Linked DNA regions of Homo sapiens. The protein of the gene in region 3 purifies or fractionates together with the protein of the main gene of each other region. This does not show direct contact. Each region holds a gene or a part of one and is shown on either strand. Other genes may lie near its edges. The genes, in order: YME1L1, CLPX, PDP2 and AFG3L2.

Evidence for each region.
Region 1: the proteins of PDP2 (region 3) and YME1L1 purify together in Homo sapiens (affinity purification with mass spectrometry; one large-scale study listed by BioGRID and IntAct). This does not show direct contact.
Region 2: the proteins of PDP2 (region 3) and CLPX purify together in Homo sapiens (affinity purification with mass spectrometry; one large-scale study listed by BioGRID and IntAct). This does not show direct contact.
Region 4: the proteins of PDP2 (region 3) and AFG3L2 purify together in Homo sapiens (affinity purification with mass spectrometry; one large-scale study listed by BioGRID and IntAct). This does not show direct contact.

Annotation. Positions count from the first base shown.
Region 1 is NC_000010.11:27,119,139-27,124,014, forward strand, and holds part of YME1L1 (ATP-dependent zinc metalloprotease YME1L1), read right to left. Parts: intron 4,562-4,876; coding exon 4,409-4,561; intron 3,836-4,408; coding exon 3,703-3,835; intron 2,311-3,702; coding exon 2,248-2,310; intron 1,410-2,247; coding exon 1,297-1,409; intron 312-1,296; coding exon 156-311; intron 1-155. UniProt on the Homo sapiens protein: ATP-dependent metalloprotease that catalyzes the degradation of folded and unfolded proteins with a suitable degron sequence in the mitochondrial intermembrane region.
Region 2 is NC_000015.10:65,157,843-65,162,718, forward strand, and holds part of CLPX (ATP-dependent clpX-like chaperone, mitochondrial precursor), read right to left. Parts: intron 4,804-4,876; coding exon 4,762-4,803; intron 910-4,761; coding exon 733-909; intron 69-732; coding exon 1-68. UniProt on the Homo sapiens protein: ATP-dependent chaperone that functions as an unfoldase.
Region 3 is NC_000016.10:66,878,218-66,883,886, forward strand, and holds the start of PDP2 ([Pyruvate dehydrogenase [acetyl-transferring]]-phosphatase 2, mitochondrial precursor), read left to right. Parts: upstream 1-2,297; 5' UTR 2,298-2,423; exon of another isoform or gene 2,424-2,564; intron 2,565-4,797; exon of another isoform or gene 4,798-4,885; intron 4,886-5,669. UniProt on the Homo sapiens protein: Mitochondrial enzyme that catalyzes the dephosphorylation and concomitant reactivation of the alpha subunit of the E1 component of the pyruvate dehydrogenase complex (PDC), thereby stimulating the conversion of pyruvate into acetyl-CoA.
Region 4 is NC_000018.10:12,352,419-12,357,294, forward strand, and holds part of AFG3L2 (mitochondrial inner membrane m-AAA protease component AFG3L2), read right to left. Parts: intron 4,414-4,876; coding exon 4,276-4,413; intron 741-4,275; coding exon 587-740; intron 1-586. UniProt on the Homo sapiens protein: Catalytic component of the m-AAA protease, a protease that plays a key role in proteostasis of inner mitochondrial membrane proteins, and which is essential for axonal and neuron development.

The DNA.
Region 1 (4,876 bases), on a different chromosome or scaffold from region 3:
ATTACAAATCTTGAAAACCCAGACACTGAAGTTTTAGAGTAAGATTAGATTCAACATAGCCATGGCTTTAGCTGTTTGAATAGAGTATTTGCCCCTAAATGAATTATCTAACACAATGAAAAGTAAAAGACAGAAAAAAAAGAAAGGAAACCTACCCATTAGAATTTTGTCTTTGGAAAACTCCAGCTCCTTCATGGTAACCATTTCTTTTCCATCAACAGCTGCTTTTAATGCAGCCTGGTTCACAAGATTCTCCAACTCTGCTCCGGAAAAGCCAACAGTACCTCGAGCTATAATTTCTGGATCAACGGCTAATGTAAAAAGAGAACACAACGCTAATAAGTCTAAAACAGGTAAAAGAAAGCTCTTCACAAAGAACTCACATTCCAACTGGGTGCGTTGGCTCATGCCTGTAATCCCAGCACTTTGGGAGGCTGGGGCAGGCAGATCACCTAAGGACAGGAGTTGGAGACCATCCTGGCCAACATGGTGAAACCCCATCTCTACTAAAAATACAAAAATTAGCTGGGCATGGTGGCATGCACCTGTAATCCCAGCTATTCAGAAGGCTGAGGCAGAAGAATCACTTGAACCCGGGAGGTGGAGGTTGCAGTAAGCCAAGATTGTGCCACTCCACTCCAGCCTAGGCAAAAAGGGCAAAACTCTTGTCTCAAAAAAAAACCAAAAAAAAAAAACACCTCACATTCCAAGGGAAAAAAGAAAATAGCTAGCTATTCTGAGCCATAGTTTAGTCACTTTTTCTCTGAATTTCATCTGGAAATACTTTAGACATAAAAGCTGCCCTTATAGGAAACATGTATAGTTTAATGAATTGATACAGCTATCTCTGAAACTACTGCAGCTTTAATAATTTCATTTATTACTCAAGTGAGTAATAAATTTCCATGTGTTTTGTTTTATAATTTGCTTTCTTCTCTTTTGGCCCCACACTGACTATATCATGAGTTACTGTTTCTGCAGCTTTTTTAAATTATTTTGCATTTTACATTCATCTTAAAAAAATGTGTGTGTGTGTATGTATATGTATGTATCCTCAAATATTATCTGTCTGAATACTCTAAAAAAACCTTTCTTTAGACTCAGGGTTCAAAACAATAGAATCTCCTGGATATACACTAAGGAATGGACTTTTAAACGAACATACTAATGGAAAAAAAAAAGACAAAAATGAACTGGTCTTTTAATGTTAATACATGTATCATGAAAGGACCACAAACAGGGTGAGTGGTATATTACCACTTTACAGAAATGACAAATGTTTGTTTTGATACTTACATTGATCAAACTTTATTTTATTGAGATACCATTTCAAAATTTCTGTTCGACCTTTTACATCTGGCCTTGGAACTGTAACTTGCATGTCAAAACGACCAGGACGTATTAAGGCACTACAGGAAGAATGCAAAAGGAAAATATAAATTAAAACTATTTAAGCTCAAATTCAACAGGACTGACACCCTAATGACGTGACTGGGAAGCCAATGGCAGCCAGAGCGCAGATGGAGTTTTGTACATAAATATTCAGATAGTTCCTTTAAAACATGGCTCAAGTAACAGTGTCAATAACCAGAAAGCAGAACAAAGGTTCATTTAGATACACGTGTGTACCTAGGTAGCCTACCCCTCAGAAACAAAAGCATGCAGGTAATTCAGTCCAGGAACAAATAATTCCACAACAAACTATTATGAGAACCACACATCCATCTCAACTGCTAAGTACAGAATGTTAGACTAGAGTCTTAGGCAGTGACAAACTACTGATCAAATGAAAATACGAATAACTTCTACAGTAAAATTTTTTCATAGTAACTTTAAACCTAGTTATAATACTACAGTTAATTTATTTTAAAAACCCTCTCTACATACAACTTTTGTGACATATAACAAATAAATATTTTAAGTTTTATTGAGATGTAATTCACATAATTTAAAGTGGATACTTCAGTGGTTTTTAATACATTCAGAATTGTACAACCATCACCACAATCTAATTTTAGAATATTCCCATCCCCCACAAAGAAATCCCATATCCAATGACAGCCATTCCCCATTCTCCCTAACCTCTGGTAACCGCTAACCCAATTTGTCTCTGTGAATTTGCTTATTCTGGATATTGCATATAAATGGAATCATACAGTGTTGATGTGATCTTTTGCAACGGACTTCTTTTAGCACAATTTTGTAGCATGTAACAGTACTTCACAAAAATCTTCTTTTAATACTTACTTATCTAATGCCTCTGGGAAGTTTGTGGCTCCTATTATGATAACTCCTTCATTGGGTTTAAAACTATATTGGAAAAAAAATAGTATCTTTTACTAACACTGAAGCACAGCACACATGTAGAAATGCTCTACACAAAACTGGTTTGTTTTCTTTTTTTGAGACTAGGACTCGCTTTGTGGCCTAGGCTGAAGCGCACCAGTATGATCATAGCTCACTGCTGCCTCAAACTCCTGGGTTGAAGTGAACCTTCTGCCTCAACCTCTCAAGTAGCTGGAATGACAGGTGCATGCCAACATATCTGACTAATTTATTTTTTATTTATTTTTAAATCTTTTCTCCCCAATTTCTAGGTACAAGCCACTATTTTTTTTTTTTTTTGGAGATGGAGTCTCACTGTCACCCAGGTTGGAGTTCAATGGTGCTCACTGCAACCTCCATCTCCCAGGTTCAAGCAATTCTCATGTCTCAGCTTCCTGAGTAGCCAGGATTACAGGCGCCTGCCACCACACCCAGCTAATTCTTATATTTTTAGTAAAGACGGGGTTTCACCATGTTGGCCAGGTTGGTCTTGAACTCCTGACCTCAAGCAATACACCCGCCTCAGCCTCCCAAAGTGCTAGGATTATAGGCTTGAGCTACTGTGCCCGGTGACTGTTTTTATTTTTAGTAGAGATAGGGTCTTGCTATCTTGACCAGGCTGGTTTTGAACTCCTGGCCTCAAGCAATCCTCCCACCTTGGCTTCCAAAAGTCCTGGCATTACAGGCGTGAGCCACCATGCCCAGCTTCATTAATCAAATAACAGCCAAGAAAAGAAACTGATAATAAACCACCAATTCATCTCTGACTACATACCTTCACAATTATCTGGTCTATGCAGGAAAAGATAACCTGATATAAAAAGCTTAGGTGCCTGGTTAATTTTTGAAAAATTACTTTCAAGTATACCAATTCAAATTATTTGCTCCTGGGCTTCCTATGTGGTTTCAAAATGTCTTATATTGAGTTTTAAGATACTTCTTTCAAAGCAACATCACCTCTTGCTTCTTATATTATGAACATTGATGTAAGCTTTAAATCTGCCACAACACTCAAAGTTAGTCATAAATTATGTAGAAACAACTGTATTTCTTCAAATAGACTACTAGTCTCGGCATAAATCATTGTTTTTCTGTCATAAGTGTAACAATAAATGAGAAAGGATATAAATACCATAAATTAAATAAGATGAGTTGATATTCAAATATCCAGTTAGTAATGAAAACAATACAATACTGAGAGAAAAAGCTTGTCTTGAGTTCTTGCATGAGGGACTACTCTGTTTCCTATACACATCACATTTTTCATATCTCTAGATATGAAATGCCTTATGGAAATAATTTGCATAAGATCAATTCTACGTATATCAAATGCTGGGAGGCATCACCATATTCTAAGAAAAAAGAAGACTCAATTACCCATCCATTTCAGCAAGAAGTTGATTTATGGTCTGCCTTGAATATGGATGCATTGGAGATTCAATTCTCTTCCCACCAACAGAATCTAATTCATCAATAAATATAACACAAGGAGCATTCGCCTTTGCTTCCCCTAAGAAAACAAAAAACATTCAAATAAGCTGAAAGAAAGTCAACACTTTTGAACAAAACGAGATAAATATTAAAATCCTATACAACTGTCAAAAGCCAACAAAAAATATTCACTGAAAGAAAAGGACGTCATTTTTTACTGACTTAAAAATAGTATCTTCAGGGGGGAAAAAACTATACCAAAGAAATGATATAAAACAAAACAGTTGGGCATTCATTCATTCTTTCCAGCTATACAAATATATACAATCAGGTTTGAAGCTAATTACTCCTTAATTCCATACTACAAAATTGATGAATAAAATGAAAAAACACTAAGAGATTTTTGGTAGCCTCCAACTTCATCTTGCACTTCCACTAGCTCTTCCGATAATTCATATAGTAAGTTACCCAAACCAAGGTCCCACAATGGCTATTTTAACTATCAATCAAAACTAATTAGCATGCAAAGCTGGAGGCCCCAAAAAATAGAAATTAAAAAAAGGAAGAAAAAAAGTAATTAGCAAAGAAAGGGTAAGATACACACTTCCCTTAACAAAATTTAGCACTGCATCAAAGATACACCAAAACGTACTAAAAAGATTTCTGATACGGCTGGCTCCCACACCCACAAACATCTCATCAAATTCGGATCCAGAAGCATAATAAAAAGGAACATCAGCTTCTCCCGCCACAGCTCGGGCAAGAAGTGTCTTTCCAGTCCCTGGGGGTCCAACTAAAAGAATTCCTAAAAGAAAATGAAAACGAGAATGATTCAAAGTATTTTTAAAAAATCCCTCGATATGAACCTATAAAATAAATAATTATTCATTTATATAATTTTCAGGCTGAGGTCACACCAATAACCAATATTTTGAAACACAGCAAACCGTACTTGTCTCTGCTAATGGTTCACTTCAGAATCTTGTCCAAAATTAATGTTCCTGTATTATATAAATATTGTTTCCATATCAACAAGAGACATGACAGGGAGAATCTTGAGGCAAAAAAATATAAACCCATTTATCACTAAATAAGATAAAATTCATGTAAAAATAGATTA
Region 2 (4,876 bases), on a different chromosome or scaffold from region 3:
TGTACAGTCACAGATAGCAAAAGGGACATCAAGGCATTTAGCTAGGGTTTGTGCCAGCAGAGTTTTACCTACAAATAGAAACAGTCACTAAAAGTTTACTGAAAATATATTGGCACACAATTTTTCAATAAAAATGCAAAATAAATTTTAGTAGTATATAATAAAAAGTTGTCAATTGCTACATCCTTCCTCTGCTATTATTTTTTTTAGAGACAGGTTCTTGCTCTGTCACCCAGGCTGGAGTGCAGCCTGTGATCATGGCTCACTCCAGCCTCAATCTCCTGGGCTTAAGTGATCCTCCTGCCTCAGCCTCAGGACTACAGGCATGTGCTACCACGCCCAACTAATACTTTATTTTTTATAGAGATAGAGTCTTGCTCTGTTGCCTAGGCTGGTCTCAAACTCTTGGCCTCAAGTGATCCTCCCACCTTTGTCTCCCAAAATGCTGGGATTACAGGTGTGAGCCACTACATCCGATCTATTATTATTTAGATATAGCTGTTTTTTATTTTATTATTCCTGTGAAGATGTTAGGGATTGGCCTGAAGGGCAACACCAATGCCTCAAATCCAGTTTGTATTCTATGCAGGAATACTGATAGTGTATCTAGATGACTGGCCTTAGATTTTCTTCTCAAGAGCCGTAATACTTCAATCGCAAGATACAGGTTATAGAATCATTTATATTCTGATTTTTAAAATGAGTAGTAAATTTTCTCAGCAAGTTATTTACCTGACCCAGTTGGTCCAAGCAGCAAAATATTACTTTTTTCAAGTTTTATGTCATCATGAGAAGAATCCAATACTTCACCTCCTCGTTTTTCCTGAGGTATTTGTTGATTTACCTGTTGCTGCATTGATGCTCCTAAAGCATTACCATGTGGGCTAATTCCAGCAATCTGAAGCAATTCTGAAAAAAATGCCAAAGGAATTACTTGAGCTTCATTTGAATTTACTTGAAGAAAATGTCCCATAAAAACTTTTATCTAAAACTAAATATCGACATAGAAAAATTTAAGTATTTTGACATTCTGTCTTACCTACAAAGGAGAAAAATCTCAAATTATCTAGTGACAAACATATAGCACACAATGATTATATAAAGAACCTCAAGCAAAGGAAATTGATTTTTTTTACTGTCCTTATTTATATAAATATGTAAGAATACTCCTTTACCCAAGGGAAGGCAATACAACAGAAGAGCAGAGCCAGGAGTTAGAAAGCTTTAGCTCTGGACCTTCCTTTGTCTCTAAGTAGAAGCTACATGATCTAGGGCAAGTCATATAAACTTTATGTTCCTGTTTCCTAATCAATAAAATCTACTAGAGAAACCAAATATGATACACCTTACTATCTCTGGCCCTATCTAAATCTCTAATTTTATTGGACCTGTACTGGATCTTTCTATTTCCTTTATTAGAGACATAACACTTAACTAGATGTGACTGACATTGCTAATGACTAGATGGGACTGACATTGCTAGTGAGGTTATCAGTTTATCAGCCAGATTCCTACAAAAATAAATCTTTAGGCTAGGCATGGTGGCTCACCTGAGGTCAGGAGTTTGAGAACAGCCTGGCCAACACGGTGAAACCCCATCTCTACTAAAAATAAAAAATTAGCCAGATGTGATGGCACGCGCCTATAGTCCCAGCTACTTGGGAGGCCGAGGCAGGAGAATTGCTTGAACCCGGGAGGCGGGGGTTGCAGTGAGCCAAGATCACGCCACTGCACTCCAGCCTGGGCAACAGAGTAAGACTCTGTCTCAAAAAAATAAAATTAAAATAAAATAAAACAAAACAAAATAAAAATGAAATAAATAAATCTTTATTCTCACTTTCTCTTGGCTGAAGGAAAGATTATCCAGATTTGTAAATATTCAGATTGTTCTTGGTTCTTAGCATTTGAGTACCTGTTATCACAACATACTTGTTTATATTTCCTGAATTTATTTTTACATTTTCTTTTCTTTTTTTTTTTTTTATTTTGAGACAGAGTCTCTCTCTGTTGTCCAGGCTGGAGTGCAGTGGTGCAATCTCAGCTCACTGCAACCTCCGCCTCCTGGGTTCAAGTGATTCTCCTGCCTCAGCATCCCGAGTAGTTGGGATTACAGGCACACGCCACCACACCTGGCTAATTTTTGTATTATTAGTAGAGACGGGGTTTTGCCATGTTGCCCAGGCTGGTCTTGAACTGCTGACTTCAGGTGATCCACCCGCCTCAGCCTCCCCAAGTACTGGGATTACAGGCATGAGACACCGCGCCTGGCCTAAATTTTATTTTCTAAGAAATTGATTCAGAAAATCAGACTTTCCAATGATTATTTTAATTAAACTGATAGAATAATAGTTTGGCAGACATATCTATTATCATAGTCCTATTCCATCTGGCTGTCACTTTCAAACTATCTTCATACTTAAGGTAAAGGGTTATTCTATTCATCAAAAACAATAAGCATTCCATAAACATCTGGATTAAATTGTGCTACCTTTGAGGGTTAATAATTAGTGAATAATTCACAATGTTGTGCCTCATTATAATCCACATCAGCCAAGAAAACTCAGTCTGCTGTATGAGGATAGTTAAATTGTCACTAGCAAAGTACTTTTTAAAATTTCAGCAAAATCTGGTTAGGGATTGTGATAACATAGGAAGGGGCTTGGGTTAAGTTTAGCTCTGCCCAAAGGGAAAAAATGATTTAGATGTAGCTTCAGATCAGCAAGGCCAGCAGGTGCTTGTCATTCACTCATTCTCTCTCTCTCTCTCTCTCTCTCTCTCTCTCACACACACACACACACACACACACACACACACACGATTTAGATGAATAAATGAACAAAATTGCAAGGGGCATATTAATTACAGTGGAACCACATAATCTATGTATTTAACTTATTTAATGATTTAAGTTTAAAAAAGAAATAATTTAAATGATACAGATGATATCCATCATCCCATTTTATGAGTATATGCCTTAGAACAAACTTGAGACAACTCTCCGATTCTTTCAGTTAGTCCCTGTTTGTGCATCTCTCACTGTGTAAGCACAGCTCTCTAAAATGAGGACCATGAGCAAGCAGGCTAGTGTAGTAGTTAGCTGCACAGAGCTCACCAGCTGTGTGGCCACGGACAAATTACTTAAAATTTCTGTGTTTCAGTTTTCTTACTTCTAAAATGGAGATAAAAATAATAGTTTCTGTCTCATGGGTTTAGGGGAGATTAAATGAATATATGCAAAACACTTAGAACAATACCTGGCAGATAGTTTTATAAGTGTTACAGAAGAATCTGGTATTATTATTACCATTTCCCTAGTGTTTAATTATTCACACAACACAGCCCTTAAACGCAAACAAAGTATTTCATCTGGTGCTCAACTTAAAAAACAACATTATATTCCAAAGATGGAGAAAAAAAGCCAATTGTGTCAGTCCTCCTAAAAGCTGTATGTTGGTCTCTAAAATTTGACTTCCAAAGGGACTTATAAGAATTAATCTTATTGTACATGATTTTGGTCTAAAACCCTAGACCAGTGTTAGGGTCTAACACCCCCAGCCAGTGTTAGTTAACAACCTAACTTTAGAACTTAAAATCCCATGTAAAACACAACAAAACTGCACATGACAATAAATTTAAGCTTTTGAAATATTTGTTTCTAAGTCAATCTTTTACATAAGTTCTTAAATACTGTTACTTGTTAACATTTAAATAACATTAAATCACTACATATATTACATGACATGTCTTTCAAAATATGCACTACAGACTTTCTTTACTAATTTAGTATAGGTTAACTAGCTGTCAACACAATTTATGAGTATGGTATTGACTGCATATCTGAATATATTTTTTTATTATGAAATAAATTACATATATACCTAAAGGTTATTATTTAGATTTTACATTCTTATATACAATCTAATTCTATTGCACTTACTGTATTTCTTAATTTTACCACGCATGGTATAATCAGTATTTCTATAAATTTAAAAATAACTGGGGATAATGTAATTTTATTACATGTGATAAATGTCATGCCCAAGTTGGTACACAAGTTATATTCTCATGGCTCATCCTATATATAGTACACTTCAAATAGTGGATATATAATACTACTTGGTTCAAAGGCAAATGTAAAAACATCAAACTTAGCTAATTTTCTTTATTTCAATTACTAAAACAAAAGGCCATGTGAATCTTTCTATGACACCCCTGGAACCTCCACCCTCAATGCAGCAACTAACTATATCCACCTCCAAAGGAATAGGTGGAACACAACAGAAAGGCCACTCTCCTTGGTCTATCAAGTCCTTCCACACCCTCCATCGGACCATCTGATGCTTGTAGGGGCAATCTGGGGCTGGAAACAGTGAATTAAGACTTACTCATAATTTGTAAGACTGTAAGTTTCATAAATACAAAAAAAACCAAAAAACAGTGTGCTTTCTGGCAAAGAGTAGCTAGAAAATAATCTGCCTCCCCCAAATTCCTGTGACCCACAAGAAGCAGGCCAACTCTAATTGTAGTTTGATAGAAAAAATAAAAAATAACCCAACATATGGAAACGACACAAATTAGCTATGAAAAACTATTCCAAAGTTATATATACCATGTAGGATAAACACATTTAGATAATACGTATCTTTCTTGGTAATACACAAGCAAATACATACATGTCTATCACTGTTACTGCTGAAACACTTCACTGAAATAAATGTCAAAAGGAAGAATGATTACAGAGGAGGACCTGAAGTCACTTACTTGTAAATCTGTACTCATCCTCCCGTCTTCTTATTTCTAACTCTAAGAAAGAGGATGAAAATATTACATATTTGTTTACCTTGGGGGAACAAACAATGAGTATCCCACCTCCTGT
Region 3 (5,669 bases):
AATGATGTAATTTTTCTCAGGAAAGTGGCGGGGGCCGCCATCTGTGTGTCTCAGCAGTCAGCCCAGGGCCTGACACATTGTGGGCACCCATAACACCTGCAGATTGAATAATTAAACACTGCTGCCTCTGTCCGGAAGGGTAACCCGTTGTGACCCTATATGACCTGTCTGCTGGGGGGAGGGAAGAAGTGTGCTTTTGCATTCTCTTGCACTCATTTATTAGAAACCCTTAGACTTTTTTTTAGTTTGGGTCTGAAACAGTCCTCTTAATATGCAGGAAGAGAGATATTGCCAGTCCTGACTTTGAACTTCTGGAAAGGGCTAAGGGTGAGTGGAACTATAAATATACAAGGGCAAGTCTGACATGAGCAGTTTTATTGTGACCACGTCCTTGGGTCCAGGAGGCTGGCCAGGCTGCCCAGGTAAGCCAGGGTGTCTTCCTTCTGGAAAACCACACTCTCAGGGCTCCAAGTGGCTTTTTCTGGTTGTCTCCCATTTTTCTCTGTCTCCAGGGAAGGACTCCATCTGACTTACCATAGTTACAAGAGTTCTGTGAAAATAATTTATAAGGAAGCAGGTCATCACTGGAATGCCACAATGTTAGGACCAGAAGGGACGGAGGGATTATCTGGTGTCGGGGTTCGCTGTCTCTCTCAACCTACCAGCCGCCAGCCGTGCTGAGTTAATTGTCAGTAGCAGGCCAATATAATGGTCAGTTCAAAGCTTAATGGTTTGTGGGAAACCACTAAAGACTTTAGGGCAGGAGGCCGGGCGCGGTGGCTCACGCCTGTAATCCCAGCACTTTGGGAGGCGGAGGCGGGCGGATCACGAGGTCAGGAGATCGAGACCATCCCGGCTAAAACGGTGAAACCCCGTCTCTACTAAAAATACAAAAAATTAGCCGGGCGTAGTGGCGGGCGCCTGTAGTCCCAGCTACTTGGGAGGCTGAGGCAGGGGAATGGCGTGAACCCGGGAGGCGGAGCTTGCAGTGAGCCGAGATCCCGCCACTGCACTCCAGCCTGGGCGACAGAGCGAGACTCCGTCTCAAAAAAAAAAAAAAAAAAAAAAAAAAAAGACTTTAGGGCAGGAATTTGAGGGTTTTTTTGGTTTGTTTTTGTTTCTGTTTTTGTTTTTTTTGAGACAGACTCTCACTCTGTCTCCCAGGCTGGCGTGCAGTGGCATGATCTCACCTCAGTGCAACTTCCACCTCCCTGGTTCAAATGATTCTCATGCCTCAGCCTCCCAGGTAGCTGGGACTACAGGCGCGCACCACCACTCCCAGCTAATTTTTGTATTTTTAGTAGAGACGGTTTCGTGATGTTGGCCAGGCTGGTCTCAAACTCCTGACCTCAGGAGATCCCCCCGCCTCGGCCTCCCAAAGTGCTGGGATTACAGGCAGGAGCCACCGCACTCGGCCTTGGAATTTGAGTTTTAGAAGTGTCATTCTGCCAGGCGTGATGGCTCACGTCTGTAATCCCAGCACTTTGGGGAGGCTGAGGTGGGAGGATTGCTTGAGCCCGGCAGTTTGAGACCAGCCTGGGCAACATAGAAAGACCTTGTCTCTACCCACCAACCACGAGAAAAGGTGGGAGGGGCGTCATTCTGGCTGCTCTGCTCTGTGGTTAGGACCAAGTCAAAGGTGGAGGAGGGAAAACCGTAAAATCAAGTGAGAGGCTTGGAATAGGGTGGCTGCGTCGCCGGATGGATGAGTGGAGAGAGATTTAGGAGATAGGATTTACAGCATTAGATAACTGGAAAGAGAGGGTGAGGGAGAGGAAGGAGTCAAGATGCCTCCCAGGGTTTTGGCTTGGGTCTCTGGGCAGATGGTGGGGCCATTACTGGGTTAGGAGAGAAGAGAAAAAGCAAGTTTGGCAGAAAGCTGAGTTTGGGGTAAGTTATGTTTGAGGCGCCTGGGGGCCTCCAGAGGCAGGTGTCCAGGTGGCTGGACATCAGGGTGTGGCGCTCAAGAGAGGGTTCTGGAGTGGTCGACACCGAAGTGGAGAGGAAGCAGTGAGGTGTTCTAACAACGGTGAGGAATTGGGGAGGCCGCTGGGTTCGGGGTATGCAGAGTGTAGCGGCCACGTAGCTGGCGATCTCAGGCACGTGACTGCCTGGTCCTGTGGCCCCGCGCTCGAACACTTTCAGCACCCAGGCAGGGGGTAAGGGGCGGTGTTGCCCCCTCCCGGGTCCCGCCTTTCTGCCCGCCTCTCATCCTCTTTAGCCATTGGGCAATACCTCTGTCCATCAAGGGCCCGCCTCCGCAATTGAGCCAACCAGGGCTGGCGGGAGGGCGCTTCCTTCTGGAGCTGGGTCCTGACTAGGGACCGCCTGGGTGAGGTGAGGACCTGGTGGCCGCAGTTGTGGCACTGTGCGCAGGCGCTGAACTGACCGGACGGAGCGGGCGGCTGTGGCCTCGCCAGCTGGTGAGAAGCGGGCGAGGGTCCGAGGTAGGGAAGGTAACGAGCGGGGGATGTGGACACCTCTTTCCCCGCCAGGCCTCGCCGGCGCCTGACCCTCCCGGCCTGCGGCACCGGCTCAGGTGACTGGGCGGAGGGAGAGCTGAGGTGAGGGGGCGGGTCCGCGGCGGAGAGGGACCAGCTGGGCCTACGACCACGGTCACCCCACTCACGTGCGCGCGCCACGTGGGCCCGCGGGCTCGCCGAGGACCCTTGGCTGCCTACCGGGGCACCCCACTAGCTGCTCTGGCCTATCGAGCACCCCTTGGAGCTCTGTGTCCCGACTGCACGCCCCTGTTTTACAGGCTGGCAAGCCGGGGCTCAGAGGCACCAAGCGGGTCGCCCGGGGGCACCCAGCTGGGGTACGGCCGTGCCGGGGTTCTAGGGAGATCGGTTTTGGTGGGCTCCGGAGTCCATGCACTTAGCGATGAGGCTGAAGTCAGAGATTTGAACTTGGGACCTGTCTGTTTTCTTTAAGGATGCAAGAGGGTTTGCGTCCTGGCTGCGGTGTATCACCCTGCACCGCTGCCTGCCTTGACTGCAGGGCCGGAGCGTCAGGCGCCCTCTGCTCCCGGACAGACCGCCCCCGCACCGACTTCTGCGGGGTGGGCTGGCAGGGGGTGGGGGAGTGAAGGGACGGTCCTCAGTCCTGGGAACTCTTGAGGTCCCGACAAATGATCTCGAGATCCCGAGGGCAGGATTCATACATGAAAAGCTCATTATAATGGGTCAAGGTTTTGTTCTGTTTTTTTTTTTTTAATTTAATTTAATTTAATTTAATTTAATTTAATTTATTATATTCCAAGGAAAAGTACCACCAGGGCTAGTGAAGGGACTAGGAAACTCGTCACCCCCTTGAGGAGGCAGATGTGAAGCTTTTGGAAATCAGTTTGGCAATGAGTCTACACCCTTGGACCTACTGACTCCTTGTTTGGGAAATAACTAGGATAAAACCTAAGTAGAGAAAAGGTTACTGCATAAAGCAGTACAGTTTGGTGGGGTTTTGTTGTTGTTGTTGTTTTTAAAGAGACAGATCTGGCTCTGTCGCCCAGGCTGGAGTGCAGTGGTGTGATCATAGCTCACTGCAGTCTTGAAATCTTGGGCTCAAGCGATCCTCCCACCTCAGCCTCTTGAGTAGCTGGGACTACAGGCACTTACCACCATGCCCAGCTAATCTAAAAATTTTTGTAGAGATGGGGCACTTGCTGTATCACCCAGGGTGGTCTTAAACTCCCTAGCCTCAAGTGATCCTCTTGCCTTGGCCTCCCAAAATGCTGAGATTATAGGCATGAGCCACTGTGCCCAGTCCAGTTTGGTATTTTATATTAATAAATAGCAAGTAGTAGAAACAACCTCTAAATTTCCAGCCGTAAAGAATAGTTAAGTAAGTTGTGATTATTTATGTCAAAATGTAGCCATCAGATGTGAAAAAATACTCTTATCAGGAAAGCCAGATTCAAAGTTGGGGTTACAACTCTACAAAAATACGTACAGAATGACTGTGCGCAGTAGCTCCCACCTGTAATCTCAGCACTTTGGGAGGCCAAGGGCGGAAGATCGCTTGAGCCTAGGAGTTTGAGACCAGCCTGGAAAACACGGGGAGACCCTGTCTATTAGCTGGGCCTGGCGGCACATGCCTGTAGTCCCAGCTATGTAGGAGGCTGAGGCAGGAGGATCCCTTGAGGCCAGAAGGGCAAGGCTGCAGTGAGCCACGATCTTACCATTGCACTCTAGCCTGGGGACAGAGCCAGGCTCCATCTCAAAAACAAAACAAAACAAAAAAAAACCAAACAAAAAATACCCAGAATGACTTAGAGGGGTATATACCTAATGATGAAAATAATAGCTACTTTTTTTTTTTTAGCAGAAGCGTCATATTTTATTAAATTCTCACAAAACCTTCTAAGACTAATATTCCCATTCCACCAATAGATAACTGGAGTGTTACCTCATCAGCAGTGTGTCTGATGCTACACAAGATAGTATCACAGCTAGTGTGCTATTGGGCCTCTGAAAATGTCATATTTAGCCAGTATTTGAGGACTTAGTGTGTGCCGGGTACAGGGCCAGGCACTGGAAAGCTGTTGGTGAGTAAGGCAGCCATAGTTGCTTGAGTCATGGAGTTTATAGACTAGTGGGGAAATATACATGTATATAAAATTTAGTTTTTGAGACAGGGTCTTGCTCTGTTGCCCAGGCTGGAGTGCAGTGGCAGGAGCACAGCTCATTGCAGTCTTGACCTCCAGGGCTTAAGCAATCCTCTCACCTCAGCCTTACAAGTGAATGGGGCTATAGGTGTGCGCCACCATGCCCAACTAATTTGTAAAAAAATTTTTTGTAGAAACCAGGTCTCCTTATGTTGCCCAGGCTGGTCTTGGAACTCCTAGGCTCAAGTGATCCTCCCGCCTCAGCCTTTGGAGTGGTTACAGGTATGAGCCACTATGCCCGAAGCAGATTATTTATTTATTTATTTATTTTTGAGACGGAGTTTCGCTCTCGCCCAGGCTGGAGTGCAGTGGTGCAATCTTGGCTCACTGCAAACTCTGCCTCCTGGGTTCACGCCATTCTCCTGCCTCAGCCTCCTGAGTAGCTGGGACTACAGGCGCCCATCACTGCACCCAGCTAAATTTTTGTATTTTTAGTAGAGACGGGGTTTCACTGTGTTAGCCAGGATGGTCTCGATCTCCTGAACTCGTGATCAGCCCACCTCGGCCTCCCAAAGTGCTGGGATTACAGGCGTGAGCCACCGCGTCAGGCCTGTTTTTGTTTTCTTTGAGACAGGGTCTCACTCCCTCTCTAGTGAGGCCCAGGCTAGACTGCAGTGGCACAATCACTGCTTTCTGCAGCCTCAACTTACCAGGCTCAGATGATTCTCCTACCTCAGCCTCCCAAGTAGCTGTGACTATAGATACACACCACCATGCCTGGCAATTTTTTTATTTTTTTTATTTTTTTGGAGAGACAGGGTTTCACCATGTTGCCCAGGCTAGTCTCGAACTCCTGGGCTCAAGCTATCCACCCACCTTGGCCTCCCAAAGTGCTAGGATTACAGGCATGAGCCACCAGGCCTGGCCCCCGAAGCAGATATTTAAATGAACACTTATAGTCTGCTGGTGAGAGTGAGTTTAGTGTATTTTAAATAGTTTATTCTAAGTCATTTTTGTTCAGGATATTAGCAAATGTTTTCAGAAGTCAGTATTTTTAAGAAATTAA
Region 4 (4,876 bases), on a different chromosome or scaffold from region 3:
AAGAACACATGACATCCTGAGAAGTGGCTTTCCTAAATGAAATAAAAGCTGGCTAGCATGGAAAGACTGCTACTCTCTTAGTAAAAAAGTATTCAAAATTTGCTAAATTCACACTTGGTTAGGCTTAGATTTTCCTTATGCTTCAGAGATGGTGATGATTTAGAGAATGAGATGGTAATTCTTTTGTGACTCATTTCACCAATTCTTCTCTTATTCAAACACCAGACACAAACAGCATGTTAACACCGATATTAAGTTATGCAGGCTGCCAGGAAAAAATATTTTGCTATTATTTGTATTAGTATAAAAGGGCCTTTTAAAAGAGCTGTTTGTTTTAGGGAATGCTTTTTTTTGTTTGTGATACTCAATATTGGAATAAGGACTCTCATTTTGGGGACATGAAAGGCATAAAAAGTGCAGCTTAAACTCAGGAGACTGAGGCAGGAGGATCGCTTGAACCCAGGGGTCAGAGGATGCAGTGAGCCGAAATCACACCACTCACTTCAGCCTGGACGACAGAGTCAGACTCCATCTCAAAAAAAAAAACAAAAGTGCAGTTAAAGATACAAAAGCCTTGACCACTCACCATCCATCTCCACCAGCAGCTGGTTGAGTGTGTTCTCCTGCTCACTCTGCCCTCCAAAGTTGCCTCTTCCTCTCTTCCTTCCCACCGCATCGATTTCATCGATGAAGAGGATGCAAGGGGCATTCTTCCGAGCAAGGGCAAATAAGTCTCGGACCTTGGCAAAAACAGAAAGAGAGTCACCTGACCAGAGAATATTATGTATTCTCTGAATAAGAAATGAAATAAATCGGCCGGGCACAGTGGCTCATGCCTGTAATCCCAGCACTGTGGGAGGCCGAGGCTGGTGGATCACCTGAGGTCAGGAGTTCGAGACCAGCCTGACCAACATGGAGAAACCCCATCTCTACTAAAAATACAAAATTAGGCAGGCATGGTGGCGCGTGCCTGTGATCCCAGCTACTCAGGAGGCTGAGGCAGGAGAATCGCTTGAACCTGGGAGGCAGAGGTTGCAGTGAGCTGAGACTGAGCCATTGCACTCCTGCCTGGGCAACAAGAGCGAAATTCTGTCTCAAAAAAAAAAAAAAAAAAAAAAAATGAAATAAATCTTCAGCTTCCCGTCCCATGTGCAGACAATCTTTTTGTGATACACACTGTAAGGTACATTTTTTAAAAGAGTTACAAGTAGCAAAGCAGCAGCAAATGAGGAGTAACCTGGGTAACCGACTTAAGGTGAGCAAATCTTTCTCAGATCCCATAAATTACTGTATATGTAATAAACACTGATAATATCTGCTATTTTTGTAACATCAACAAATTAACATTACATATATACCTAAACAAAGACAACACAGTAGAGCTGTAAACTTTACATTCAGTTGAAAAGTTCAGACTTCTCTAGAGTTCACATTTCATGCCTAACACAGTTATTAACAAGCTGAGGCTACTAAGGAGTCTATGCAATCACACATATACAGTGAAGCCAAAGACCATCCAAGCCCATCAGCTCATCCCCAAAGAGGGGGTGACAGCCTTCGTCTGCCACCCACCCCACCACAGACCATCCTGATAGCACATACCCTCAGACAAACCTGCAGTCAGGAAGAGGAGGAAGAGCCACTCAGCACCTCACCATCAGTCACCTGCCCCTTCAAGGAGAATCAGAGACAACTCTCCACCTGCCCACTCCCACCCCCCCCCCCCCACTTCACTGGACAGAAGTCCAGGTCTTCCTGCCTGGATTTCTGGATGTTCATTCCTACACTGCTCTGAACACATCCCCTAAAATAACTGGTATCCTTCTCCAGCCTCCCCTCTGAATTCCAGATCTGTGACCTACAGACCCACACCTTCATAGTACATCCATCCCATCCCGGCATGAACAGGAACTCAGCCATTCCAGCAAGCCTTAAGCAGGAGTCTGCATCTTCCCCTACAGGCTAACTGGAGCTGGGGTCCACCTCACACCCCACTGCTGCTGCCAAAATAACTGCTGGAAAAGCCCCTGCTTGCTGAGGCTCAGGCCTTGTGGCAGGCACTCCACCCCACTGTGCCATGGGTCTCCCCCAGCCTGACTGCCACTAGGCATGATGTCCTCAGTGATTTCCATCCATGTGGCTCTCGGTCTCTCAGTTCCCTGACCACCCCTTCATTCACCTTTTACTTCACTCTGACAAGACCAGCACTGCCAAGGTTGCCTTTTAAACCACCATCTTCAAGTCATCTACTCTCTGAGCACCCCCTCCTATCATCTGGACCCACAGACACACTCAGGTATCTCACGCCAACTCTTTACCACTTCTCAGCTCTGCAACCCACCAGGCCCACCCTTCCCCACCACCCCCCACAGCTCCTCTCCTGTCTTCAATTTCCCCCCATCCACTTTATATCTCATGGCCCATCATCATTAACACCCAACTCCCCCTCATTCCCTATTTTTCTATGACTTATCTGCACAACAACAGCAAAGTGTGAAATAGATGTGAAGGTGAGGCCGGACAAGGTGGCTCACGCCTGTAATCCCAGCACTTTAGGAGGGCAAGGCAGGGGGTGCATCACCTGAAGTGAGGAGTTCAATACCAGCCTGGCCAACATAGTGAAACCCCATCTCTACTAAAAATACAAAAATTAGCTGGGCATGGTGGTGGGTGCCTGCAATCCCAGCTACTAGGGAGGCTGAGGCAGAATCACTTGAACCCGGGAGGCAGAGGTTATGCCGCTGCACTCCAGCCTGGGCGACAGAGCAAGACTCCATCTCAAAAAAAATTAAAAAAAAAAAAAAAGAACTCTTACAATTCAACAACCAAAAAAACCCAATTAAAAAATGAGCAAAGGATCTGAATAGACAACTCTCCAAGGAAGATATACAAATATACAAATGGCCAATAAGCATATACAAGATGTTCAACATCACTCCTCATCATGGAAATGCAAATCAAAACCACGAGATACTACATCACACCCACTAAGGTGGCTATCATCAAAGTGTTGGTAAGGGCGGGGAAACATCAGAACCCCTTACACATTGCTGGTAGGGATGGAAAATGGGCAAGTAGTTTGGAAAACAGTCTGGTGGTTCCTTAAAATGTTAAACATGGAGTTACCATTCAAAAACATGTTAAGTGAAAGAAATCAGGCATAAAAAAACCACATATTGTATAATTTCATTTACATGGAATGTCTGTACTAGGAAATTCCTTTGGGTAGTTTGCTTAGGACTCCCGATTTACATATTTTTTTTTTTTTTGAGACGAGTCTCACTCTGTCACCCAAGCTGGAGTGCAGTGGCGTGATCTCAGCTCACTGCAAGCTCTGCCTCCCAGGTTCACGCCATTCTCCTGCCTCAGCCTCCCAAGTAGCTGGGACTACAGGCGCCCGCCACCACGCATGGCTAATTTTGGTTTTGTTTTTTTAGTAGAGATGGTGTTTCACCATGTTAGCCAGGATGGTCTCGATCTCCAGACCTCCTGATCCGCCTGCCTTGGCCTCCCAAAGTGCTGGGATATCAAGTGTGAGCCACCACGCCCGGCCACGATTTCTTCTTGATGTAATGGAAATGTTGTAAAACTGATTGTGGTGATGGTTGCACAAATCTGTGAATTACTAAAAGCTACTGAACTGTATACTTTACAGGGATCAATTGTTTGGTATGTCAATTATATCTCAATAAATGTTGTCACCAAAAAAAAAAAAAATCCACAAATAAAGCAAAATTTTTTTTTTTTTTTTGAGACAGCGTCTCACTCTGTTGCCCAGGCTGGAATGCAGTGGTGTCATCTTGGTTCACTGCAACTTCTGCCGCCTGGGTTCAAGAGATTCTCCTGCCTCAGCCTCCGAAATAGCTGGGATTATAGGCATGCGCGACCACGCCTGGCTAATTTTTCTATTTTTAGTACAGACAGGGTTTCGCCATGTTGGCCAGGCTGGTCTCGAACTCCTGACTTCAAGCGTTCCACCCACTTCAGCCTTCCAAAGTGCTGGAATTACAGGCATGAGCCACCGCGCCCAGCCGTCAATTCTTTAAATTGGTCTACTATAGGTAGCAGACTGCAGTCCTAGCTGGTGCGAGGGAAGGTGGGGTGGAAGTCACAGGCCTTGCTGAAGTCTTAGGCCTGGAGGAGAGCTCAGGCCAGGGACTGGTGAGAGGTCACTCTAGCACTCTAGGGGGAAGGGCCATCTCTAGCAAGTGCCTCCATCTGTGGTGAAGTGGTGGGTGCAAGGAAGCTGTACCATCCGAACAGAATGAGACTCACTCTAGCAGGGCCCACACCAACGAACATCTCCAAAAACTCAGATCCACTAACGGTGATGAAGGGGACATTGGCTTCTCCGGCTGTGGCCTTAGCTAGCAGCGTCTTCCCAGTGCCTGGAGGACCAGTGAGAATGGCACCCTTCAGATATGAAAAAAGAAATTACATTTAATGAGAATTCCAGAAAAGTAAATTGTGTATCCACAAATAATTACAAGATATAACTCTGTCTCTAAATCTTATTGATATATATTAAATATTACTTAAACATCTGAGCTATGGTAGAACATTTTTATATTAGTAAGAATAAAAAGATTATCAAAAATAATTTTGTTTCAAAAAATTTGGTAAGAATGTGAAATTTAAAATATTTCCTTTTTTTCCTAGGGCTGATTTTTAGACCTTTAGTCTAACAGTATGTAAAGGGTGACTTGGGCTAGGAATATACTAATAAATCTGCTAAGGTTTACTTAAATAATTTAAGAAGACACCAACACCACACTCCTGATTTATGTAATTCTTTTACTCTTTACAAGTAAAATTGGTTTTTGAGCTCAAATAATTAATAAACCCAACTTCTGACTTCTACTTTCATGTACAAATC